Regions from separate parts of the Homo sapiens genome. Here regions 1 and 3 are each linked to region 2. Evidence: fine-mapped expression QTL. A gene starts in region 2. Each other region holds a variant in brackets. All regions are shown on one strand. Distances are between the middles of the regions.

Region 1 (11,117 bases), 190 kb before region 2:
GAACTAAAGCTGGCCCTCTGGAGTTCCCACTAACAAGGGCTGTCCTCATGTCATTGGTGACACCCCTAGGAGCCCATCCAGTGCTCTCACACCCTGCCCCCAACACCGCAGCTTTTCACATCCCAGAGGAAGCAGCCACAGCTCTTCTGAACGAGCCACACACATTATGGGGCAGGTGCAGCCCACACAGTGTGTCCCTGCAGTATGCAGCATGTGCCCCGGGTGTGGGGAGGGGGACTTCCGGCTCCAGCTCCAGGACACCCTGAGGATGCTGCGTGATGCTTGCTGTGGGTTGGCAGGGCTTCACCAGGACACCCTGAGGATGCTGCGTGATGCTTGCTGTGGGTTGGCAGGGCTTCGCCTGCTGGTGTCAGAAGATGATTCTCAATTAGCGCCAACCCTCCCTCCCATCACCCGGCCAGGCAGAGAGCAGGAATGGAGAGCCACAGCCCGGCCATTTAAGAGCAGCGCCAACTCACTGGGCAGCCCACACCAGAAGGGGCTCCTGAAAAGTGTTAAATCCAAAATCTCCCATTGCTCCCAATCTCACACAGCTCCTGGATTCTCAGTTTAGCCCTGCCAGGCCCATGCTGCAGAGGCGCCTGCGGGGAAAGTGGGTTACTAATGACCCTGCTTTGTGCAGCTGGACACGTGCCGAGGTAAGTCAGGCCCCGGCCAGGGCACACCATGGATGACATTCATCTTTTCTGGCACTGACGCTGCCGTCCACAGCCACAGGCGACACCGCACAGCACCTGACACTGCACAGAGGGGCCAGGAGGACGGGTCGAGGCTGACTTCTTTCCCCATATTCCCAGCCCCCCAGGTCCTGGTAAAGAAGGTCCACATGTAATCCCATCACCTTCAACACAGCTTCTGTGTAAAGGAGGGAAGAACCCCATCTATACAGGAGGCTTGTCCAGCACAGCCCCTCCACCACCCCACGCGCAGGGGTGTCCAGTGCAGCCCCTCCACCACCCCACGCGCAGGGGTGTCCAGTGCAGCCCCTCCACCACCCCACGCGCAGGGGTGTCCAGTGCAGCCCCTCCACCACCCCACGCGCAGGGGTGTCCAGTGCAGCCCCTCCACCACCCCACGCGCAGGGGTGTCCAGTGCAGCCCCTCCACCACCCCACGCGCAGGGGTGTCCAGTGCAGCCCCTCCACCACCCCACGCGCAGGGGTGTCCAGTGCAGCCCCTCCACCACACCACGCGCAGGGGTGTCCAGTGCAGCCCCTCCACCATCCCACGCGCAGGGGTGTCCAGTGCAGCCCCTCCACCACCCCACGCACAGGGATGCAGGCTTAGCTCTGAAAATGGCATGGGCAACAAAGGATGCTGGTGATGAACCCCAAAGTCTCTGCATGGCTGCATCCTAACTGTTCCAGCTGTCCAACCAGTCACCTAGAGGTCACTGGGCTGCCTATGGGTAAGAATTGCTGGAGGCAGAGCCTGAGAGACTTGCATGAAGGGGACATGGCCTATGCCCCGGTCGGTGGACAGAGCCGGGCAAGGTGCCCCTAGCCTGTTTCAAAATCCTCAGAAGGGGGATGCTTGCTCTGTTTACAAGGGGTCCTTAAGATAAAACTATGTCCTGTGTTTGAATGTGTGTGCATTTTACAAATAGAAGTACTGTTGATGACGCCCAAACCGTGGCCACACTGATGATGGCCGCACTGGCAATGGCCGCACTGGCGATGGCCACACTGACGATGGCCGCACTGATGATGGCATTGGGTCCCACGTGGTGCTGTCCTGGGGCACACTCGCTTTCTCTAACGGAACCTCTCACCCTGTTCATCTGGAGTTGCTCACCAGATCACACCCTCGCCTTCCTATTCCAGGATATCCCTTCTCCCCCCTCTGTGCTTCTCCACTGGACTAGTCTATCCGCATTCAGAAACACAGATATTTCTCCTTCTTAAAGAGAGAGATCCTCAGCCGGGCGCGGTGGCTCACGTCTGTAATCCCAGCACTTTTGGGAGGCTGAGGTGGGCAGATCACCTGAGGTCAGGAGTTTGAGACCAGCCTGGCCAACAAGGTGAAACCCCATCTCTACAAAAATTAGCCCGGTGTGGTGGCGCATGCCTGTAATCCCAGCTACTCTGGAGGCTGAGGCAGGAGAATTGCTTGAACCTGGGAGGCGGAGGTTGCAGTGAGCCAAAATTGCGCCACTGCACTCCAGCCTGGGCGACAGAGCAAAACTCCGTCTCAATAAAAAAAAAAAAAAAGAAAGAAATAGAAAGCTCCTTGTGGTCACAGGCCCTGGGGGGCTACTCCTCCTGTTGTTTCCTTTACACAGCCCCTCCCGCTCCCAGCTTCCTACCTCTCTTATCCCGTGCCGCTCCTGCAGTTCATGCTGCTCCTGCTGTCCACGCCGCTCCTGCCATCCACCAGCTGCCAGGGGGCCTCCCCAGGGCCATCCACACCTCCATGTCCGTGTCCATCTCCAGCTCGTTCTCCCCCACATCTGACGCCCCATCTGCAGCATTGAGGGTGCCTCAGTCCTTCTCCCGGAAACCAACACTTTGCTTGGCTCCTGGATACCCCATGCCCTGTGCCCTCCCACCCCCAGACTCCTCTGAAGGAGGATTCAGAGGAATCTTCGCCTCCTCTGAAGGAGGATTCAGAGGAATCTTCGCCTCCTCTGAAGGAGGATTCAGAGGAATCTTCGCCTCCTCTGAAGATTCCTCGTCCCAGAGCTCACCTGAACGTCTTCTCTACACGACTTTCCTGTGGTCTTCTGGGGGCCCTGCCATCCGTTCACCATTGAAGGACGCTTGTGTTGCTTCCAGCACTTGGTGATTATGCCTGGGTAGAAATATCTGTGTATAGGTATTTATGCAAACATAAGTTTTATTTTCTGGGGCTGGCATTGGCAAACAGGCCCCAGGCCACATCCATCCACCGCCTGTCTTTGTAAACTCATGGTGTGTGTCTGGCAGGACAACCACAGAGAGGAACATGGACAGTGACTGTGGCCCTCAAAGTCTAAAATGTTTACTTTCCAGATCCTTTCTCGAAAAGGATCCAGGGTAAAGACGTGAGGGCTGACTGGTGTGGTGAGTGTGTGTTAAACTCATGAGAAGCCAGCCACCGGGTGCACAGTGGCCTCACCATTGCACACACACAACGCACACACACTGGCGGCTGTGTGCCAATCAAAGGCAGTAAACCATCCAAACTCTAAACTTCAGTCCTCACCTGTTCAGTGGCTTCCGTCTCAAAAAGGCAGGACCTCCAGTTCCCCATGGCTGGGCCTCCTGCCTCATTCCCATGCCAGCCCAGCTGCCTCCCTACCTGATCCACTCACCCAGGTGCCACCCCACCCCAACCCTGGGCCTTGGCTCACGCATCGCCTTCTCAGAGAGCCTCGCTCCCACAGCGCTCCCTGGCCCCTCCTCTACACTCCCCTGTGGCATCTGTCCCCATGTCACCTGATGGCCCACAGGAGCACTCACTCCAGGGGAGCTGAGACTTGCCCTAATCACAGCTGTGGCTGCAGCAACAGCAGGATCTAGAAGTGTGGGTACACAGTAGGCACTCAATTTATGTTTGTTAAACAAACACATTTTCTTTCAAGTGACAGCAACTGAAGGGAGGACTGACATTACAATGCCACACATTCCTCACACGTGCAGGTTTTACCTGGAAGCAGAAATGCTGGAGGGTCTGCAACACACCTGTCTCTGTCCACCCCCACTCCCCACCAGCACACCCCTCCCCAAGGCCCCCCGTACCAGCTTGCCCCTCCCCATGCCCCCCCCACCAGCACGCCCCTCCCCACGGTCCCACCCACCTGTGTGCCCCTCCCCACTCCCCACCCCCCACCCACCAGTGCGCCCCTCCCCACTCCCCACCCACCAGCGTGCCCCTCCCCATGGCCTCCCCACCAGCGTGCCTCTCCCCACGGCCCCACCCACCTGCATTCCCCTCCCCACTCCTCATCCACCTGTGCACCCCTCCCCATGGCCCCCCAACCAGCATGCCTCTCCCCATGGCCCCCCCACCTGCACGCCCCTCCTGACTCCCCACCTGCGCACCCCTCCCCACGGCCTCCCCACCAGCGTGCCCCTCCCCACAGCCCCACCCACCTGCATTCCCCTCCCCACTCCTCACCCACCTATGCACCCCTCCCCACGGCCCCCCAACCAGCGTGCCCCTCCCCACAGCCCCACCCACCTGCATTCCCCTCCCCACTCCTCACCCACCTGTGCACCCCTCCCCACGGCCCCCCAACCAGCGTGCCTCTTCCCACGGCCCCCCGACCTGCGTTCCCCTCCCCACTCCCCACTCACCTGCTTGCCTCTCCCAACAGCCCCACCCAGCTGTGCACCCCTCCCTACAGCCCCCACCTGTGGACCCCCCCATACTTGTCCCCTCGCCCAGGACCCCACCTTTTCACCTCTCCCCCTATGGCCTCCACTTCGCTGTGAACTCTCATCTATGAAAGGAAAATCCAGGATGCGGCCCTCTGGGTGCAGAGCGTCCTTAGCAGCACGGTACACCTACTGGCGGGGGCGCTGCAGCAGGAACGTGTCCTTTTTGCAGGTCGGGCAAGACTTGTCCTAGAATCGTCAAACCCCAGAGCTGATGGGCCTGTGAGCTCAGCCCATCCTTCCCCATCATTACAGATGAGGTGATCGGGGCAGCAGAGCGCAGAAGTGGCCCCTGCGGGGACACCTGGCCAGGTGGAGGCCTAAGGGAGATGGAGCCCAGAGTCCAGGGCCCAGGTGGCTTCTCCAGTGGGAACACGCACCAGACACAGAGAACAGACCCCGCACACCCAAAGGAACCACGAACAGAGGCTGCGAGGTCAGTGTTTGAGGATTCCTAAGGATAAGCACTGATGAGTGTAGGAGCCTGTGAGGGGTCCCCGACAACTGAGACGCGGGAGCCCAACCCCAAGCTCCGAGGTGAGGGAGGACGGCACCTCCAAGGCCACCAGTGCGTGCGCGTGGGGAGGAGGCCCTGCCCGGCTCACAAGGTGGGCAGGACACAGCACAGGATGGGCTGCAGAGACCAGGGGAGGCCCAGGGCGGGCAGAGCCTGCGTCTACAGCAGTGAAAATGCATCACACCAGCTCAGCCCAGGGCGCGAGCCAGGTGCCCACCAGCAGCCAGCATGGCTCCCGGGAGTTCCATGCTAGGGCGGCGTAGACAGCACACGTCTGTCCATCTGCATTTTCCCTGGGTCAGGAAAGAGAAAATGGACAAAGACCCAGGAGATGGGGTCACAGGGCAGAGCTCCTGAAAGAATGAGCCGAGCACCTGTGCAGCGTGGATTTATTTTATTTCATTTTTTACTCTCAAGAGAAAGAAGAGTTACTATTGCAGGAACAGACATTTTTTTAAAAAGCGAAACTCCTGACACCCTTAAAACAGAAAACATTGTTATTCACATAATAATGTGGGGCTCTGTCTCTGCCGACAGGGGCTGGGTTCGGGCATTAGCTGTGCCGTCGACAATAGCCCCATTCACCCCATTCATAAATGCTGCTGCTACAGGAAGGGAACAGCGGCTCTCCCAGAGAGGGATCCACCTGGAACACGAGTCACCTCCAAAGAGCTGC[G/A]ACTGTTTGAGAATCTGCCAAGAGGAAAACCACTCAATGGGACCTGGATAACCCAGGCCCGGGAGTCATAGCAGGATGTGGTACTTCAGGGCCCTGGGCACCCTGTTGATCACGAGCCTCCCGTCATAGCTCAGGGAGGCAAACAGCCACGGGTCAGCCGAGGACCAGTCCACGGCATAGACGCTGTCCTCGTGCTCCTCGTAGGTGGCGATCACGTTGTCCTGCAGGGGCTCCTTGCTCCTGCAATGCAACAGAGGCAGACGTGAGCGCAGCAGCTCCGGCGGGGCGGGCAGGAGAGGGGCAGGGAGGACGCGAGCGCTGACATCGGGAGACACGGGAGGTACTGGGGCCTCAGCTTTCTCCGCTGTGGGATGGGAAGAATTAGAGGAGCCCACACCGAGGACGGTGGGGTGGTCCCTGCAGAAGCCCAGAAACCCTCACTGTCACTGTGAGGAGTGGGCATTTCTCAAAAGGTTTATGGAAATCGGCGACATTGGCACATGGTGTCTTGGTTTCTTCTGTCCTTGGCCCCCGGGTGCCTGGGTTGATATTTTGTTGGAGGTCTTCCAAGGGCTTCCTTTAGCTCAGGGGAAAGACTGGGGGAAGTAGTCACCGTGTCTGGGTAACACAGGATGTAAACGCCCCTATTGCTTGAGCAGAAAGGACCCTGGGAAGCAGCGGGTCCAGCTCCTGGCTGTGTAGGAGTCAGAGGCTGGGGCACAAGGAGCCTTGCTAGGATGGGAGTGGGGCTGGGCTGAGGATCCCCCAGGACACCAAGAGGAAGACGCCCTGGCCCTGTGGGAGCAGCAGAGGCGTGACCTGCCTGGCCTCCCCCAGGGTGTTTCCCACCTCGCCTCCCTTGACTGTGAGTTACCCTCACTGGGAGCCCTGACCAGGGGATCCTCACACAAGAAGCACCACTTCCTCAGCACAGCGTGCATGGGGAGGGGGCCCTGCCCGGCTCACAGCGGCCACTTTCCGGTGGACACAGGCTTCTCTGGCACTTTACTTCCCATTTCACAAAAAAATTCCCACATAATTTGTGTACCGCATTCTAACTGCTTTTGCATTTCTTTGTAGGAAAATGCTTCACCCCCCCAGCAAGACGGACCCTCCAGAACTCGCATGGTCTCTGGGAAGCTGGCTTCCCACAAAGTGGACCTGCCAGTGGTCAACTGCTGTTGTGGGACAAATGCCAGGTGCAAATCCTTAGGAGGAATCATGGTTTCCTGAATGCAGCAGGACATCAGGACTGAGGGATGTCCTAAGAAGTCTGCGTAGCCCCGATCACCTCCTCCCTTCCTATCTTGCTCCCATGACATTGCCGCCCAGAAGACAACGCCAGCAGTCTTCCGACCAACGGGCCCATCAGGCTCCTCCCCTAACAGGGACAGACATGGTGAGGAAGTGCAGACTCCCTGGGCCACTGGCAGAGAGGACGGTAAAGGGAGCCAGGCCCACAGGCACCGAGAGACCACTGGGCAGATGCTACCGTGCGTGTGCTTAAATACTATTCTATGGCAGACCGAGTTTCTAAGGTTTGAACAGAAAAACAACAGAGTCTGGCTCATGCCTGTAATCCTAGCACTTTGGGAGGCTGAAGTGGGCAGATCACTTGAGCTCAGGAGTTTGAGACCAGCTTGGGCAACATGGCAAAACTCTGTCTCTACAAAAAGTTAGCCAGACATGGTGCCATGGGCCTGTTGTCTCAGCTACTTGAGAGGCTGAGGTGAGAGGATCACCTGAGCCCAGGAGGTCAAGGCTGCAGTGAGCCATGATCGTGCCACTGCACACCAGCTTGGGTGACTTTTTTGTTTGTTTTTGTTTGTCTCAAAAACAAAACAAAGGCAACAGAGTCAAGAGACAAACAGATGGGCCCATCGCCACTGCAGAAAGGGTCCAAAGACAGAGACAATCAGATGGGCCCATCGCCACTGCAGAGAGGGTCTGAAGACAGAGACAATCAGATGGGCCCATCGCCACTGCAGAGAGGGTCTGAAGACAGAGACAATCAGATGGGCCCATCGCCACTGCAGAGAGGGTCCGAAGACAGAGACAATCAGATGGGCCCATCGCCACTGCAGAGAGGGTCTGAAGACAGAGACAATCAGATGGGCCCATCCCCACTGCAGAGAGGGTCCGAAGACAGAGACAATCAGATGGTCCCATCGCCACTGCAGAGAGGGTCTGAAGAAAGAGGTCTTCTCACAGAGGAATTTTAGACCAAGCTCAGGTGGGTAGGGGGAGAATTCAGACAAAAAACAGTGCAAAGGATCCCAAAACAGAGTGACAGACCCCATCGTATCTAAGGGCTCTGTCCAACTTCACAAGGTTTTATTCCAGAACCTCCTTCCTCTGGAACCTGGGGCAAGAATCTCTGCGGTTGCAACTGAATTGCATCTAGTCACCCCCCAGGAAGCGGCTGCCACTTCTAAAGGTGGACTGCTCAAGGACACAGGGGCCCTGGCACTGCACCGCTGACCAGAGGCGGGCATGAAGAGGCTGCCCTTAGCGATCTCCCATCTCACCTAGGATCAGAAATCAAGGTGCATAGGAAAAAGCTTTGGGAAAATCCAGAACCATGATGGTGTGACTAGAAAACCCACATCATGGTTGACCACATTTTGTAGAGTATCTAGAAGTGAAGTAGGACCCGGGTTTGAGACTGGGAAGGTTGGCCTGGAGTCTCCGCCCTGCTACCAGCCAGTGGAAGGCCCGTGAGCTGATGGCCAACAACCCGACCCCAACACGCTCAAATCCACGCCAGTGAAGACACTGACTGTGATGCGTCTCTTACAGGGAGTGCTGTGAGGATTGGGATATATTCGTTCTATTATTATTCATGCTCAAGTTTGAAGACCAGTGAGTCTTTTAAATCTTACAGATGGCATTCAATAAGAATACAAACACAAATAGATCTATTTTAAAACCGCACCTAACCCTAACGCACCTGCAGTGCCTCCCACCTGGGCTGCTAATGACGGCACCCCTGGAACTGTGAGTCCCCACAGCTGCAGTGGGTAAGGAGAGTGTCCCCCAAATGCACTCCTGGAAACTTTCTACATACACAGCCTGGCTCGGGAGATGGCTGTGCAGACAGGAGGCTCTGGTACAGCGTGAGCCACTCTGCAGTGCGTGCCCTTACTTCTCTTCAGAACGGTGGTCCTCCTGGTCACTGATGTCATCGTCGTCTACCAAGTGGCCGAAGGGCTCCGACGAGATGGACACCATGTTGGAAAGGATGACTCTGCTGTCACTGCTGCCCGTGAGGACCAGCTGGTCATGAGAGTGGTTGTAGCGGACGTTCCACACCCTGCAAAGGGCAAGGCAGCTGCTGAAATGAACTGTCACCCGCAGGCAACACCAACAATGGATCACACCGGCTCTGAGGGCCCCACTAGGCTGGGGCTCACGTTAGGCACTGCCAGGCAATCGGCCCCCAGTCACAGGGCCTGACATAAGGCAGTTTTCCGCTGAGGTTGGGTTTACTGCAGGTTTCTCTTAAGTCCCAAGAGACAGACAGGGAAGACTAAATGTTGGCTGAAACCTACAGGAGGAGAAGGCTTATCACGCAACATTTCAGACAAGCTTTCTAAAATTCGAAAAAAAAAAAAAAATACTGTCCCAGAAGCAACATGTGGATTAGCGATATCCTGTAATATCAAACAAGTCTCACGGCATCTTCCCAGTTGGCAGTGACTGTGGGTCCTGAGACCAGGGCATGGCGGCCTCCCGGGGCACAAGGGCTGTCCTTGGTTTTGGCTACTGGGATCAGCTTTCTTGCTGGCGTGGGTCCTAGAGCCTGGGAGCTTCTGCCTCCCGTCATGCTGAGGCCAAAACAAGCTCCAGGGCCCAGGTGGCAGACAGTGCCAGGCCCTTGACGCTAGGAGGTGCACCCAGCATGGCCAGGGGCACAGGGAGGCCCAGCCACTCAGACCACAGGAAATTCCAGCAAGTCACTGAATTTATCAGAAGTGTGCACTACCAATCCGGGGTTTTAACATACAGCTTCAGATAAGTAATTCAAACAATACAGAGATGCAGGCCATAGGGAGTGAATGCCCCTCTTTGACTTGGGGAGGATTCCTGATGAGATTTTGGCTCTTACTCTTTCAGACATTTCCTCCACATACCTGTGTCACTCACACTTGTGTACACCCGTGTGTGCACACACGTTTTATTTGCATAAAAATGGATTCATGCTATACATGCCATTGTACAACTTGATCTTTTTACTTACTTAGCAAAAAGTACCCAGCACATGAAAAACATTCAAATAATATGTTAGGGAGAATGAGTGACCTCAGAGATCTTCCCACAGCCACATAGAGATGCTCCACATTCTCCCGACAGCTGCATCATCTCCACTGCACGGATGTCACCTAATTTACTTAACCAGTCCCCTAGTGATGGACATTTGGGTGGTTTCCAGGTTTCTGGCATTACAAATAATGTTGCGTGAACATCTGTGCACATTTATTTTTGTATACTTGAACCAGCACTGTTTCAAGAGAAAACAGAATTTAATGTTTTTCTTCTTTTCCTACGTTTATAAATCACAAACATTCAGATTTGGAATTAGTGTTTCTTTAGGAAAAATAAAACTGGGTTGATTGAATGATTCACAGCAGCACAAACTAAGCTGGTTTGTGTCTTTCCCAATGGTAAAGTAATTAGCAAAATCAATTGCGTAATCCCCTCCTCCCTGAAGCAGCCAGGAGCGGCCCTACCAGTGGGAGTGCTCCTCCAGGGTCTTCACGGGTTCGGTGACATTTCGGGTGTCCCAGAACTTCACCTTACAGTCGTCTCCGCAGCTGGCCAAGTAGTACTGCTTATTGGGATTAAAGTCAAGGTCCCGCACCAGCTGTCCGTGGGCATTCTCTATGCAGTAGATCTGGCTGAGGGAGAAGGAAGAACAGCAAAGGAAAATAGTAAATGGATTAGGAAAAGCCACTGCGTGCTGCGGGCACACACTGGTTTCCCGGGACCCTGTCTAATCCCCCGGCCCAGGGTGCTCTCATCCCCTCGGCGTTCCTGCCCTGCAGGAAGAGGCTGGCGCCACCTCCTCCATCCCAGCAACCCTGTGTGGTCGCACCACGCTCATCTCTCCAGAAGCGTATCTGTGACCCTCTGGGCGAGCCGTGGAAGGAATTTTTGCTTTGTAGCCGTCAAAAATGTGACTTGGTATCATCTTGAGAATGAAAGCATGCCAGAGGGGCTGCAACAGCCATGGGGACACTGAGCCAGACATTTGGACAGGATGCCTGACACATTTCTGGAAGGACACAGTGAAGAAGGAAAAGAAAAAGACAGGGAGTTGAGGTAGAATATAGTGTTGGGAAATTTTATATATATATACATACATACACATACAACACAAAATATCTATCTATATATAGAACTATATATATACAGAGAGAGAGAGAAAGGGGGGGGCAGTGGGGAAGGCCATGGAAGCAGGAAGGGGCCGGCTATCTATCTATCTATAGATATATACAGAGAGAGAGAGAGAAAGGGAGGAGCAGTGGGGAAGGCCATGAAAGCAG
Region 2 (5,000 bases):
TGCTGAATGACGAGTTAATGGGTGCAGCACACCAGCATGGCACATGTATACATATGTAACTAACTGGCACATTGTGCACATGTACCTTAAAACTTAAAATATAATAATAATTTAAAAAAAAAAGAGAGAAAAAAAAGAAAATAACATTTCAGTTAACCTCAAAGATACAATACTGAAGATAAAATCCTCTGGGTTTTTTGAGAGATTTCTTAAGGAGATCAAGAAGTTAAATTAAGTAGCACTGGCAGAGTATGCATCTTCAGGTAGTACAAGATTATAGAACCTTCTATCTACCCATGTGGTCTCTCCCTGTGTATCCCTATGTGTATCTAGTTAAAGAGAAAGCAGTAGAACTTAGCAGGTAAGGGGACTCGAGGTCAGTTTGGGTTGAAAGTCTAAGTAGGTCAGAATCCAAGGTCTATCATTTACTAGTTAAGTGGCCTTGGACAGGTAACTATTCTCTCTGAGGCTGTCTCTTCATCCGTAAAACAGGAACAATAACACCTACCAATAATGATTGCTGTGAGAATTAAATGAAATATTTGTACAGTGCTAAGCAGAGTGTCTGACACATAGTCCAGAGCTAAATCACTGGTAGTTAAGCTATCAGTCTTGTGAATGTGATATAGCCACTGGTCAAATCCTATAGCACAGTTTATTATACAGGACACTTAACTGCTGCCCTGTATAAAATTTATTTGTAAGAATTTTGTCTTAGGCAGGGTGCGGTGGCTCATGACTATAATCCCAGCACTTTGGGAGGCCAAGGAGGGCAGATCACTTGAGCTCAGGAGTGTGAGACCAGCCTGGGCAACATGGCGAAACCCCATTTCTACAAAGGAAAAAAAAGGAATTTTCTCTCATTATAACAATTAGAACAACAATTATTGAACACACTATGCACCAGGCACTGTTCTACGTGATTCAATTAAGTGTATTAACTCATTTAATTTCATAACAGCCATGAGGTGGGGGGGAGGGAGATGCATATTTTATTGGCAAGGAAACCGAGGCCCAAGGTCACATAGTTAATAAGTGCTAGAGGCAGGATTTAAAACTTAGGTGTCTGGGTGGCATATGTTATTCTACTAACACTGCTGCCTCTCTGACTGTAACCTACTTAAAAACAGACATTGGCCAGGTGCGGTGGCTCACGCCTGTAATCCCAACACTTTGGGAGGCTGAGGCAGGCAGATCACAAGGTCAGGAGTTCAAAACCAGCCAGGCCAAGATGGTGAAACCCCGTATCTACTAAAAATACAAAAATTAGTCGGGCGTGGTGGCGGGTGCCTGTAATCCCAGCTACTTGGGAGGTTGAGGCAGGAGAATCACTTAAACCCGGGAGGCGGAGGTTGCAGTGAGCCGAGGTCACGCCACTGCACTCTAGCCTGGGCAACGGAGCAAGACTCCATCTCAAAAAAAAAAAAAAAAAGCAGACATCATTTATATCTTTAACACATACTGCTGCACAAAATTATGTATCAAGTATTTCATATGGCAGTGAACTGTGTTTCTATCTCTCTATCTGTCCCTCAGTGCTTTAGGCATAACACATTCTCAAAAGCTACTTGAATAGATGAAAACCAGGACAGGGCTCTAACAGGCCCTACACAATCCTCATCTTCCTCCCCCGCTCATCTCATCCCCTACCTCATTCCCCCTGACGCATTTACTCTATCCACGGCAGCTTTCTTGCTGTCCTGAACTACCATGTGCATTGCTTATGCTCTGGGGGCTCATTCGGTTCATAGTCATTTGTTGAACACCTACTATGTGACAGTCATGAAAAGGCACTGGAAAATACAAGGTAAAAAACTAGTGTGAAAACAGTTGAATCCGAAGACAGTCTGTGGTTTACTGAATATTAGTGTACCAATGTTAATTTCTAAGCTGTGATAAATGTACGATGGTTATGTAAAGTGTTAACATTAAGGGAAGCTGGGTGGAGGGTAAAGAAGAACTTTCTATGTATTTTTACAACTCTTCTAAATACTTTAAATTGTTTCAAAATCAAACATTTTTATTTTAAACAACATACAGTTCCTACCTTCAGGAACTCAAATTCTAGAGGAAAAGGTGGGCGTGTAAATAAATGAGTCCACCAAAGTGAGTGATAACTTCCAGGTCAGAAGTCATGTTCGGGACAGGATGTGAAGGGGAAGGAGGCAGGCCGGCTGTGGCCAACCCTGTTATCCAGTACAACCGTTTAACCTCCTAAAGCCTCAGTTTACTTCTCTGCAAAATGGGAACTAGGGAACAGACACGGGTCCTTGCAGGGCTGGTGGGAGATCTGCAAACCGAAGTCACCATGGGACCGCGCATGCTATCAACAGCCAGGCCGAGCAGCACCTGCCGCCCTCCCAGTGACCCACCTGGAACTCCAGCCCGTAGATCACTGGTGCATCGTCCTCCATGCTGCGGGGAAGCGACCCGACCCCGGCCACTCACACGCTAAGGACCTCGCTACGGCCGGCGCGTCCCCACCTCGCGGGCGTGTTCCCAGCGCCCATTCATTCCCTCCCCGCAGCAAACGACTCCAAACTGGAAGTCTTTCTGGCCCAGAACAGCTTCCGTAGTGGCCACTTCCTATTTTTCGGATGTGTCATCAATCTGTTCCTCACCAGCGACCAATGGCAGCGGCGCTGGCTTGTGCGCATGGCCACTTGGGCTCACATCCGGGCTCTCAGCGCGGGGACTCCTGGAGGTGAGAACCCGGCCCAGAGGAAATAAGTTGGTGGGCGGAGCGGGCCGCGGAGGCCGGCTGTGGGTGGAGGCCGGCTCCGAGCGCAGGCCGTCGGGAGCAAGCGGCGATTAGCCTTAGCTAGCCATCGCATCTAAGAATCGCTCACGCCGTAGTTGGGCGCCGCCATGTATTGTCATTTGTATGTACTTGGCGTTCCTGAGCGCTGGGCCAGCGCTTCACACGCACTGCCATAAGGAGCTTCATCCAACCCTATGAATAAGCTGTTACACTTCCATTTTACCGATGAGACGCTGCAAAGTTGAGTAACACAGTCGCAGCGCTCATTGGTCCATTGGGTAGCCAGGATGGGCACCTGAGCTGACTCCCTTAGGTTCGGCCCAAGGTGCCCTAAGTCAGGGCCATGCCTAATGCATTTCTGCAGGTGCCCAGCACTGTGTGGCAAAGAAAGCACTACCAAGGATGGGGTTATGAAAGCCGGCACCGCACCACTGGTGGTCCTGGACTGCATATGCCTCCGAATGGGAGTCGGAAGGGAAGGCCCTGGGGTTCCTAGAGGTCTCCAAAGACTAAAGACTTGTGGTGGAGAGACTGCCCCTCTTTCGCATCCTGCTCAAAGTGCCTGCCCTGGCCTTGGGCCAGCAGAAATGGCATCGCAAGGACTCCAAAATACATCATAGCTGAACCACGCCGCTAGCCTGGTTCCACCGGGGCTTCCAGGACCACGCACCTTTCCTCCATTTCTGTGATTAGCTTTCCCCTCTACCCTTTATTGATCTCCGTGACGGAAATGGTTGGGTCTCGTTTTGCTCAGTTGGGCAAGGCGCGTGGTATTGAGTTAAGGCTGGATGAGTATCTGTTGAGTGTATGAAATTTTAGAGATTACATGAGAAATCAAATGAGCAGGCCGGGCGCGGTGGCTCACGCTTGTAACCCCAGCATTTTGGGAGGCTGAGGAGGGTGGATCACAAGGTCAGTTCGAGACCTGCCTGGCCAACACAGTGAAACCCCGTCTCTACTAAAAATACGAAACTTAGCCCAGCGTGGTGGCACGCGCCTGTAATCCCAGCTACTCGGGAGGCTGAGGCAGGAGAATCGCTTGAACCCGGGAGGCGGAGGTTGCAGTGAACCGAGATCGCGCCACTGCACTCCAGCCTGGGCGACAGAGCCAGAGTCGGTCAAAAAAAAAGAAAAGAAAAGAAAGAAATCAAGTAAGCAAAAACAAGAAAGAAAGAAATCAAGTAAGCAATGGCCCAGACATGAGAATCATCCTATTCAACCACTCTGTTTGCCGATATTAACTTGCGGAGCTAAGAGGGCCTTCATACTTCGGGATTAAACCCACCCATCTATCACTGATATCTTTATCATTAATTTTATTATACAAGTACTGCAGGTGCATGGTAAGAAACTTACAAAATACAGATAAACACAAAGACAAATCCATAGAAACACTGATTTCTAGGATATGCTGGTCAATAAAAATAGCCTAAGCGACTCCCTTTCACCCGCCCCATCTGCCACAGGCTTGCCTATTGCCTCTGAGTGACAGAATCAGGCTAGGTGGAGTGGAGTCTCCGTTCCCATTTCCAAGTACAGGGTCCGCTCCCCTCAACTACCGGCTCCTGGTTGCCTGTGCGCGTTCACACCTAGGGCTCCAGGCCCCGCCCACAGCAGACGAACCGGAAACGAACCCCATTTCCGGCCTGGGGGCAGGGCCTCGGGTTCCTGCATCGGGCCTGAGCAGAACTAGGCGCGCCGCGGCCCGGCACGCGCAGGCGTACAGAGCTCCCCGGGGGTGCCAGTTCCTCTCCGATTCCCGGCTTCTGTCACCTTCCTCACGGACCTTGGTCACGGCCGCAGGTGACCCCTTAGCCCAGCTCCAGTGGGCGGGTGGCAGGTGAGGATCAGGGCCTCGGCAGTCCAGAGGGGATGGGACCGTGTAGCGCCACCTCGGGGAGGGAGCACACTGGCTTTGGCCTCAGCCCGGAGGGACCTTCTCTGGGACCGATGCTAGAGTGGGCGTGGGGTCCGGGCGCGGGGTCGCCTGCCACCCAAGGGCGTGTGTGCTCCGCGGGCCTTGTGCCAGGCTCCACGTCGCCGCGGCCCTTGCTCTCCACGTCTGCAGAGGGCTGGAAGCGTCTCTGCAGCCCGCGGAGTTTGCGGGAAGGGGAAGCTGCTGCGAAGCGTGTGGGAAACTACCCGCTGGCGCGCGCCCAGGCGTCCCCGAGACCCCCAGTTCCAGGCTTGGTGCCAGCCAGGCCCCCAGCAAGCCCCTTAACTTCCCTTAGACTTAATT
Region 3 (10,145 bases), 120 kb before region 2:
ATTTGAAACTGGAGCAAAGGTCACCCTTGTTAATGCCTTAGCAAAGAGCTTGGCTGCATTGTGTCCATTCCCTGGGAATCTGTGGAAGTTTGAACTTAAAAGAAATGACCTAGAGTATCTGGCAGAAGACATTTCTCAGAAGCAACGTATTCAAGAGGTAGCCTGGCTGCTTCTAACAGCCTACAATCAGATACAGGAGCAAATAAATGACTTAAAGTTGGTATTTATGTTTAGAAGGGAATCAAAGCATAATGTTTGGAAAAGTCACAACCTGGCCATGTAGAAAAGAAGCAAAGAGGATTTTCAGGGGAAGAATCCAAGAGGGCTGTGGAGCAACCACTTACTAGAGAGATTTGCATGACTAAAAAGGAACCAAGCACTAATAGTCAAGACAATGGGAAAAAGGCCTTGAAGACATCTCAGGCATCTTGGGAGGGGGAAAGCCCCTCCCATCCAAGGTCCAAAGGCCCAGGAGGAAATAATGGTTTCCAAGGCCAGGCCCGGGGCCCCACTTCCTTGTGCAGCCTCAGGACACTGCTCCCTGCATCTAGCTCCAGTCATGGCTCAAAGGGGCCATAGGTACAGTTCCGGCAGGTGCAAGCTATATGCCCTGGCAACTTCCACATGGTGCTAAGTCTGTGGGTACATAGAATGCAGGAGTGAAAGAAGCTTGGCAGCTTCCCCTAGATTTCATGGGATACATGGGAAAGCCTGGGTGCCCAGGCAGAAGACTGCCACAGGGGTGGAGCCACTGCAGAGAGACTGCACTAGGGTAATGCTTAGGGGAAATGTGAGGTTGAAGTCCCCACAGAGTCCCCATTAGGACACTGCCTAGTGGAGCTGTAGGAAGGAACCTTCTGCCCTCCAGGCCCAAGAATGGTAGAGCCAGAAGCAGCTTGCATCCTGAGCCTGGAAAAACCAAAAGCACTTGACTCCAACCCATGCAGGCAGCCATGGGGACAGCTGGCCAGGGTTTTGGGAGCCCAATCCTCACACCAGTGTGCCCTGGACGTAGGACATGGAGTCAGTGTTGGAGCTTTAACATTTAATACCTTTCCTGCCAGGTTTCAGACGTGCATGGGGCCTGCTGCCCCTCTGTTTTGGCTGATTTCTTCCTTTTGGAATGAAAATGTTTACCTAATGCCTGCACCCCCATTGTAATTTGAAAGTAAATAACTTGATTTTCATTTTACAGCCCATACCTTGAGTCTCAAATGAGACTTTGGATTTTTGAGTTGGGGCTGGAACAAGTTAAGACCTTGGGGGACTACTGGAAAGAGATGATTGAATTTTGTGATGTGAGAAGGACATGAGCTCTTTGAGGGCAGAAGCAGAATGGTATGGTTTGAATGTTAGTCCCCTCCAAATCTCATGTGGAAATGTGATCCCAATGTTGGAGGCATGGCCTAGTGGGAGGTACTGGACCACAGGGGCGGATCCCTCATGAAAGGCTGAGCACCCGTCCCTTGGTGATGACTGAGTCTTCTCGCTCAGTTAGTTCCCACAAGATTCGCTTGTTTAAAAGAGTCTGGCAGCTGCTTCTTTCTCCTAACAAGTGATGTCCTGGCTCCCCCTTCACCTTCCACGATGGTTGTAAGTTTCCTAAAGCCTCACCAAGAGCAGATGCTGGTACCATGCTTATATAGCCTGCAGAACCCTGAGCCAAATAAACCTCTTTTTTTTTTTAATAAATTATCCAGTCTCAGTATTCCTTTATAGCAATGCAAACAGACTAACAGAGGCAGCTAACACACATAAAATAAAATATAACAGTGTGAGATATACTGAAAAATAGTTAAAACATTACACTAGATGGGCATAATTTGATAAAAGCACCCCCAAGGGAGTGTTCAGTTCAATTCCACCCAGGCGGCCAGCGGTCTGCTGAACTGACTTCATCCACAGAGGGAACTCATCTGAATGATTTCCAAAGTCCTTTTCAGCGAGAAGACTGCGGCCGTGCCCTCTGTAAGTTCCTACTCCTGAGGCAGGCTGCCTTGGCTGGAGTAGCAGGGGTGTCAGCCACTGTGAGGCTAAAGGGAGGGTGGGAAGAGGGTCTGTAATTTATTTTTGATTCATTAAAAACAAAGTGATGTGGCACTGAGCAACAGTCAATAAATGTAGACTCTGCATCTAATAAACAAATAAATAAATGTCCTCTACATCTAATAAACGTAGAACTGGAAAGAATCCGAGGCCCCACAACCACCCCCACTCCACACACAAGGGAACAAGGCCTCAACAGAAATGACTTGCCCAAAGTTGGAACACTACAAATAACTACCTGTAAATCTGAAACGAGAGCCCGCCACCCTAGGTCTGCTGCCTTGAAGTCCACCATCTCTCCCACAAGTCACTATAGCTGACGAAGAAGCAAACCAGAGGTAGAGAGGGGAAAGCAGGTTTAAAAAGAAGGGCATTTTGTTATTTTCAAAATGCTTAATTCCCATATACAGCATACTTTATTAATGTTTATCAACCAAAAGGACCAGCTAGAAATACTGAAACATCCTCAACGCTTACTGTCATGAAGATACATTTATATTCCCAGGAACAGAGACAATTTCATAATCACACTGTGAGGAACACAAATGGCTCCTTCTGTTCATTCAACAGGGAGGTGATCCCAGTGTTTCTGGAGTTCTGGGGCGAGACTTCTGGCTATGAATCCTGAATACTCCCTCTGTAGGAGTGAGTAATTCCAGATACCTTTACCTTAATCTCTTGGGGCCATGGGAAAGGACAGTCCCTACTTTACAGGATTTGCATGAGTGAGGTAATGCATGCAAAGCCCTAGCAAAGGGGCCTCGTTCACAGAACGGTTCAATACGATATGGTTGTTGCAAAGCATTCATTTTCTCACTCAAATACGCGGAGTGTCCGCCCTGTGCTGTCCTTGGTGCTGAGGACACAGCCTCGGACCTGACAAAGTCAGCAGCTTCTGCAGAGGCTCAGCGTCCACAGAGAACACCACACGTGAGTGAGAACAGAGACGGGAGTACTGAGCAGCGGCAACTCCTACGAAGATAAAACGGCAAAACGGGCCACGTGCAACAGCTCACACCTGTAATCTCAGCACTTTCGGAGGCTGAGGTGGGCGGATCACCTGAGGTCAGGAGTTCAAGACCAGCCTGGCCAATATGGCAAAACCCCGTCTCTACTAAAAATACAAAAATTAGCCAGGCGTGGTGGTGGGTGCCTGTAATCCCAGCTACTCAGGAGGCTGAGGCAAGAGAATTGCTTGAACCCGGGAGACAGAGGTTGCAGTGAGCTGAAATCATGCCACTGCACTCCAGCCTGGGTGACAGAGGGCGATTCCATCTCCAAAACAAAAACAAAAACAAAAAATTGGGCAAAATGGCAAGAAATCACAGGGTGGGGCAGAGCATGGTGACTTGAGAGGGAAGGGTTAACCAGGCGAGGCTGAGACAGGAGCGTCTAAGTGGGGCTGGTGATGGGGCAGGTCCTCTAAGGCCAGCTCAGGGGCTCCATCCCTGCCGGGCAGAGCTGCAGAGCACCAGGGCTGGCGGGGACCTGAGGGGCCCTTACAGGAACCCCGGCACTGCCTTGTTTTTAGGATCTTCCTTAGCAAATATAGTAAGGGACACATTTCCACTGTAAATCAGAAATAAAAAACTCTAAGAACCCCACCCATCTGAACGGACTTTCTCCCTAGCCAGGGCTCTTTTAAAATTTAACCTCAAAGGCTGTTTTAGGCCATGATGGGAAGTGGGGATCGGACGTGCCTCATTCTACCTCTCTGGCATCAACATCGACACAGGCTTTAAGTCTGATAGGAAACATTTTATAGCCTGTTCTCTCGGAAGCTGCCACCTGAAGTTTCCTCTGCAATAAGAACTTGAGTCTCCACGGTCCTTTTTCCTAACCCAGGCATCCCTTTCAGTTGATCTCAGGTCTTTAGACAAATTCAACCAATTGTTAACCAGAAAATGTTTAAATTTACCTACAGTCTGGAAGCCTCCTGCTTCGAGTTGTCCCCCCTTTCTGGACCAAACCCATGTATTTCTTAAATGTATTTGATTGATGTCTCATGACTCCCTAAAACGTATAAAACCAAGCTGCGCCCCGACCACCTTGGGCACATGTTCCCAGGACCCCCTGAGGGCCGTGGTCACTCATATTCAGCTCAGAATAAATCTCTTCAAATATTTTACAGAACTGGACTCTTGGTGGACACCATGTAGAGGCCCTGCCACACAACCATCAGCTGAGCAACGTCATCGCCGTTTCAGGGATGAAGGTTTGAGCTAGAGAAATGAGTGACTTCCTAAAGACCCTACTGCTCCCGAGGAGTGGGTGAGGACGAGAAACCGGACTCAGTACTTCCCAGCTAGTCTCTGTCTGCTTCCATAGGCTGCCTGGCTCTGGAGCATGTCTGATTAGTGTTCTGGGGGGCACACTGGGTCATAAGGCTCTATAAGTTCCTTCCTTAGCCTTCGCTGTTCCCACTAGCAGGAGCTAAAGGCGACTGGTGGGGTGCCCTGTTCAGCCTCTGCTTGTTGGAGTGCTGAGACAGACACAGGAGGGGTGATGGAAATTAGGACATCAGATTGCTCCAGACAGGCAAAAGCTGAAATGGCCAGGAGGACAGGAGCCCCTAACACCATTTCCTGCGGTGTGGGGCATGCCTCTAGTCTGCAGGGAGCACCCATGGCAGGCGTGATGGCAGCTGGAGTGGTAGCGACGTGAGTGTGGGGAACCGTGTGGCATTCTCGGGCACTCCCAGGTGGCCAGAAGCTTTGTGCAGTAAACATCTCCTGGAGCTGTTCTTGGTGCCAATTATATGCCAAAAGGAGGCAAACAAAACCACCACCAAGCACCTGGAGCCTGACCCCAAAGGGCAGCCTTCACCTGTGCCGTATTCACCAGACCGACGTTCCCCCAAATCAAATTCCCTATCTAATCATAACACTTTCACACCATGGAAGACACTTAAAAGAACACGCATGATGACACCAAATGCTGGGGAGGACGCAGAGAGGAGGAGCCCTCACGCTCTGTCATGGCATCACACGTGCAGCAGCTCCACACAAAACTAACTGAGCCGAGAGAAATAAAACTTCCTGTTCATACAAAAACCTGTTCATTAATACTTACCGCAACTGTAGTCATAATCGCCAAAAACAAGGAAAAACCCAGATGAGCTTCAACAGGCAAGTGCTTAACAAACCGTGGTGCGTCATGCCATGGGATATCCCGCCGCAGCAAAGAGGAACCAGCCACTGACCAGCACGCATGGTGGCTGGAACCCAAACTTGAAAATGAAGCAGCAACTCAACCTCCAGGGAATCAAGCCGAGTAAAGAACATCAGTTATTAAAGGTTACACTGTGGGTGATTCCATTTATAGAACCTTCTCCAAATAACAATACAGAGATAGAGTACAGATTCGGGGTGGCCAGGGGCTAAGGCCTTGGAGGCGGAAGGGAGGTGGCTGTGGTTATAAATATAACATAGCACAAGGGACCCAGGGTTGGAGTTGTTCTGTGTCTTGACTCTGGTGGTGGCTACACGAACCCACACACACAATAAATGGCACAGATGTCAATGTTCACACACGAATGCATATAAACAGGAGGAATCTGTGTAAGTTCAGTGGGCTGTATCAATGCCAGTTTCCTGTTTGTGATACAGTACCATAGTTATGCAGTGTTACTATTGGGGAAAACTGGCTGAAGGATACACGGGATCTCTCTGTTACTCCTATAACTATATGTGAATGTACAACCTCAAAATAAAAAGCTTAAGAGAAAAAAGAATATGCAATAATATATTGGATAACAAAATGGAATTCAAGCAATACTTTGAACAACAGAGGCAAAATCAGAGCAAATGGCATTCCAAGGTAGATCTGAGGATAGTTGAATTTGCCTGTTTAATATCAACAATTACTTTCTTACTTTCTTTTTTTTTTTTTTTAGACGGAGTCTCTCTCACCCAGGCTGGAGTGCAGTAGCCTGATCTCAGCTCACTGCAACCTCCGCCTCCCAGATTCAAGTGATTCTTCTGCCTCAGCTGCCCAAATAGCTGGGACTACAGGCACGTGCCACCACACACGGCTAATTTTTGTATTTTTAGCAGAGATGGGGTTTCACCATGTTGGCCAGGCTGGTCTCGAACTCCTGACCTCAGGTGATCCACCCACCTTGGCCTCCCAAAGTGCTGGGATTACAGGTGTGAGCCACTGCACCCCACCTTCAACAACTATTTTCATAAGTCTATGTAGGTATGATGCAATTTAACATTACAATCTAATAATCAGTTCCCCATGACACACACCCATGTGGCCTGTCTTTGCATACAGTGTCTGCACAAGGTGGGAAGTTGAGAAGCAGTCTGACAGCTCCTTGTCCCCAGGCAGGGCCAAGGTCCCTTTTCTGAGCTCACCTGTCTCTGCACATCCCAGCAGGACTGCCATCCGCTACACATGCTAACCTCCCTAACGTGACCACTGACCTGCGCAGAGTCTCACTCATCTGCTCCCTGGTGCCGGTGTCTCCTGCAACGTGTACACACATTAACACATACACAAATGTGCACACATACGTGTGCACAGAGACACAAGCACAAATGTGTGCACATGTGCATCACACACATGCGCACAAATGTCTATTTGCTGGGGATGTGGCAATCATTTGAAATGTGGAACTCCTAACAGTGCTGTGTGGTTTGCACAGAGATCCTGCATTCGGGCGGGGAGTGACAGCAGTGGCAATCACTCCTGGGGACTTTGGGACTCTTCATCTGCCTCCCCTTACTGTGCAAGACTGGCTGTGATTTTAATACTCAGAGCATCTCCGTAAGAAGAAATATCCACCGACGTGGTAGAAGCACAGCAAGTATAAAAATAATTCCACCACAAACTGATACACAGAGAGCATCCGGAGCCACAGACTGCCTGACCCTCAGCACTGCTCTCCTCCATACCTGACGAGGGAAACCTGAGTCGGTCCTCAGTCCCCGTTCCAAACTCCACCTCGTAAGCGAATCCCTCTTCAATTCCTCTAATAACAATTAATGGCTGCTCCTTCCGGGGCCACAGCGTACAGTTCGTAATGATTTCGGGGTACGCCACGGCTGGCCCAGCCACAGTTAGTTGTGTACACCCTGGGTCTCCCCGTGGAGATCATGACTCTCGGAGGCCGGGCCCTCTAACTTGTCACCTTGGTGTCCCTGGAGCCTGGCAGGGTTTCTGTAGCAGGTATTTAATAAGTATTTGTTGTATTAAATTTATTTAATTGGTAGAACTGACGAGACAGAAGTCACTGTACAAACGATTTGTCTCTTGCAGACACACACGCACATGTGTATGTGTTAATGCATTAAGTAAAACAATCACTATCGTTATTGTAAACACTCATAACAACAGTATGCCCCCGCAATCTCCTTTAGAAAATACGGCTTCTTAATTTTTACCAAGGCCTCAGGGCCTTCAGAGAGCAGCTGTGACTGCCGTGGAGAGGTCCCTGGGAATGACCAGTGGGTGCACACAGCCAGGCCTCCAAGCTCATGAAGCAGCGACTGGCCAGGGAGCCACGTGAATGACACACCACATGCCGGACACGGGCGGGCTTGGGCACGCAGCCCCACAGGCACACCACGCATTCATGCTTTGTCCACGGGAGGAAGGGATTGTAAGCCTCAACCTGAAGTGGTAAATAATTGCCATGTGAGTGTGAATAAGTGCATGCTGACCAAGCTGAAAAGCCACACAGCGCTCGAGGGCAGTGCAGTGCCTGACCCTTTACCCTCTGGCAGGTCCCCACGGGCAACACTCCTCTTAGATGAAGAGGAGAAAGTGGGGATGCAGGCGCGCTGGCTACATTTCTGTCAATGCGGCTAATCTAGAAAACACAGGGACTAAAATTAAAAATCAAATTCTCGCAGCTTTTTAAAAGAAAGGAGCGTTTCCGAGGTGTGGACGGTGGCTCCTGCAAAGGAATCTGCACAAGCTCCTGCACCTGGCCAACCTGCAGGCTCGTTCTGGGC[G/A]CATGAAATATGCAAAATCCTACCAGGCCATGTTGCCATGGGCTGTGTTGTCAAGGTGACAGAGCAGCTCCAGGGTCTGTGCAGTGCTGGATGAATCATCAGGGGACTCGTGGCTGCCTGATTCCAATTCCTTCGGCATCCTCCACACGGCTGCACATGTCAGGACTTTGCTGTCTGAAGCTGAGCAACAGAGCATAATGGATAATGTCAACAGAGCACGGTGTGCCCCGCATTCTGCAGACAGCACACGCACATTTACACAAATCCATAAGCAGCGCGCATCTGCTCTTTAAAATATGTACGATTGCAGGCAGCAAAGACGGAGCAGGGAGAAGCACAGCCTGAGTCGGCAGGCAGAACCCGGCACGGTTCGTAATCAGCATCCTGTTCCCCACTTTCTCTTTGTTTTAAAAACCATCATGCTGTTTCAAAAGAAAATTTAATTTCCTCAAAATCGATTTCCTTCCGTTCTTCTTCAATAGTTCTTCAAAAAAGGGAGCAAAATGGGGGACTAAAGATATAATCACCACGCACGCAGCTGGTGTCTAAGGTTGGCATTAAACGGGTTTTCTCTCCATAGCTGTATGAGATCACCTTAAATGACTATTAGGCACACTGAGCGATATTCCATTCGGAAATCCTGTCACGCATGTTATTCTGCCTCAGTTTACCTAAAGTGATGAGTATCTGGGACCGGAAGGTAATGCCATTCAGAGGCATCGCATGCTGAGGCCTGGAGCCCTGGTGGGCAGCAGGTGGCAGCCCAGCCTGGTCATGTCACCATCAATACAGCCTCTTCTCCTAGAAATGAGAGTGCCATCCTTACACGATCCTGCTGGTGGCTGCTCGGTCTCCCTGAGTCTTGATACTCTATTTTCAAGATGCTCCAGGAATCTAGAGTACCTAGAAAAGCCACTTTGTGGATAGAGACTCAACCTGCATTAGAAAGACTGGGGTCACTTGTTTCCAAGGAAGGTCTCTGATGCTCTAGAAAATTTCTCAATATGATAAATTTTTTAAAAATTAGATTTAACATTGAATTCTTGAACATAAATCCTTTCAGAATTTGCTTTCCATTTAGTTTTCAATTGAATATGTGCTAAACACCTCTCCCTTTTAAAGATGGCCTTTAATGAATAATCATAAACTAGCAAACAGGATTCAACATTAAATCATCAATTGATAACAAGTGAAGAACATAAAAATATTATATATTGCGTTAGAACATAAAAAAACATTTCATGGGTAGTACAAGAAGGAAAACAGCATGGCATTACAAAATAACAACGACCTTAGGTTACAATCGAAAATGTATCACTTACTGGTGATGATGCTCTTGCGATCTCAATATCAACTAATCGACCAAGCAATATAGCAACGAACTCAATGACAAAATATCTAACTTTGTGAATATTATTAATACCATTGTTAACCATGATTGAATGATAAGAAGTTAAAAGATTAAGACTTCAACCAGGATTTTCTGATTCCAAATTCAGTGACCATTTTATATACCATATTGGGTCTAAAAGAACATGCAATTATGGCTTAAAGAAAAAAAACTCCATCATATATTCATATAATGTTCACACTTCCAACTTTACAAAAATGGAGTGTACAGACAGTTCTGTCTACAAGGGAATTTTATTTATTTATTTATTTATTTATTTGCTGAAATTTTCAGTTACACGATCTTTCTGCAGAGCCCACGAGATTGGCAATGGCACTCCTGGAAACACAAAAATAACCAAAGGGAAAGTTGGCAATTTGGAGTAGGAAAGAAAAAAATGAATGCCTAACCCACTAGCACACACTAACCCAACAGAGGTGTAGATTATCTTAATCTTTCTAAATGGTAGAAAAATACATGTCTAATCTTACAAGTTATAGAACTAATAATGGGAGCACTAAATTGTGGCTGCACTTCAAAATGAATGAAATACACAAGATGACAAAGGCAGGGAATAGTAAAAACAGCTATTCTGTGGAAGAAATGACTAATGGCAGACACTCCCCCCCACATCCCCAACAAGTTCCTTCTTTGGAGAATTCTGTTCAGGTGTAAAGAAAGTGACTTTCCTGTAAACGCCAGCTCACCAAACTCCTTAACTATATCCACGTTGCCCTCAATAAAGC

Direction of the effects. Alleles are on the strand shown, and positions count from the first base shown. SD is a standard deviation of normalised expression in the study named. Not every link is listed here.
For the expression in monocytes after LPS of the gene that starts at base 2,543 in region 2, G is the high allele of the variant in region 1 and A is the other (moderate effect, 0.50 SD a copy in Fairfax 2014).

Evidence for each region. PIP is the estimated chance that this variant, and not a neighbour inherited with it, causes the effect.
Region 1: its variant is the best candidate, but not a certain one, in a credible set for the expression of EIPR1 in monocytes after LPS (Fairfax 2014, PIP 0.82).
Region 3: its variant is the best candidate, but not a certain one, in a credible set for the expression of EIPR1 in whole blood (TOPMed, PIP 0.88).

Annotation. Positions count from the first base shown.
Region 1 is chr2:3,183,698-3,194,814 of GRCh38, forward strand. EIPR1 (EARP complex and GARP complex interacting protein 1) reads right to left here. Exons shown (of 9, transcript NM_003310.5): 7 at 10,302-10,469; 8 at 8,717-8,884; 9 at 5,273-5,811. The coding sequence ends at 5,637. It overlaps LOC107985840 (a long non-coding RNA gene), which reads right to left and starts at 3,671. Exons shown (of 4, transcript XR_001739257.1): 1 at 2,707-3,671; 2 at 2,326-2,481. The variant G/A (reference allele first, on the strand shown) is at 5,572.
Region 2 is chr2:3,375,276-3,380,275 of GRCh38, forward strand. It overlaps EIPR1 (EARP complex and GARP complex interacting protein 1), which reads right to left and starts at 2,543. Exons shown (of 9, transcript NM_003310.5): 1 at 2,373-2,543. The coding sequence starts at 2,414. TRAPPC12 (trafficking protein particle complex subunit 12) reads left to right here and starts at 4,419. Exons shown (of 12, transcript NM_016030.6): 1 at 4,419-4,601. RefSeq lists enhancers at 2,047-2,326, 2,347-2,526, 2,547-2,596, 2,868-3,384, 3,385-3,901 and silencers at 2,767-2,826, 4,390-4,439.
Region 3 is chr2:3,249,267-3,259,411 of GRCh38, forward strand. EIPR1 (EARP complex and GARP complex interacting protein 1) reads right to left here. Exons shown (of 9, transcript NM_003310.5): 4 at 8,033-8,189. Among named protein-coding and RNA genes, the nearest start is that of EIPR1, 120 kb to the right of the region's middle. RefSeq lists a silencer at 2,832-3,126 and enhancers at 5,213-5,262, 5,273-5,402. The variant G/A (reference allele first, on the strand shown) is at 8,010.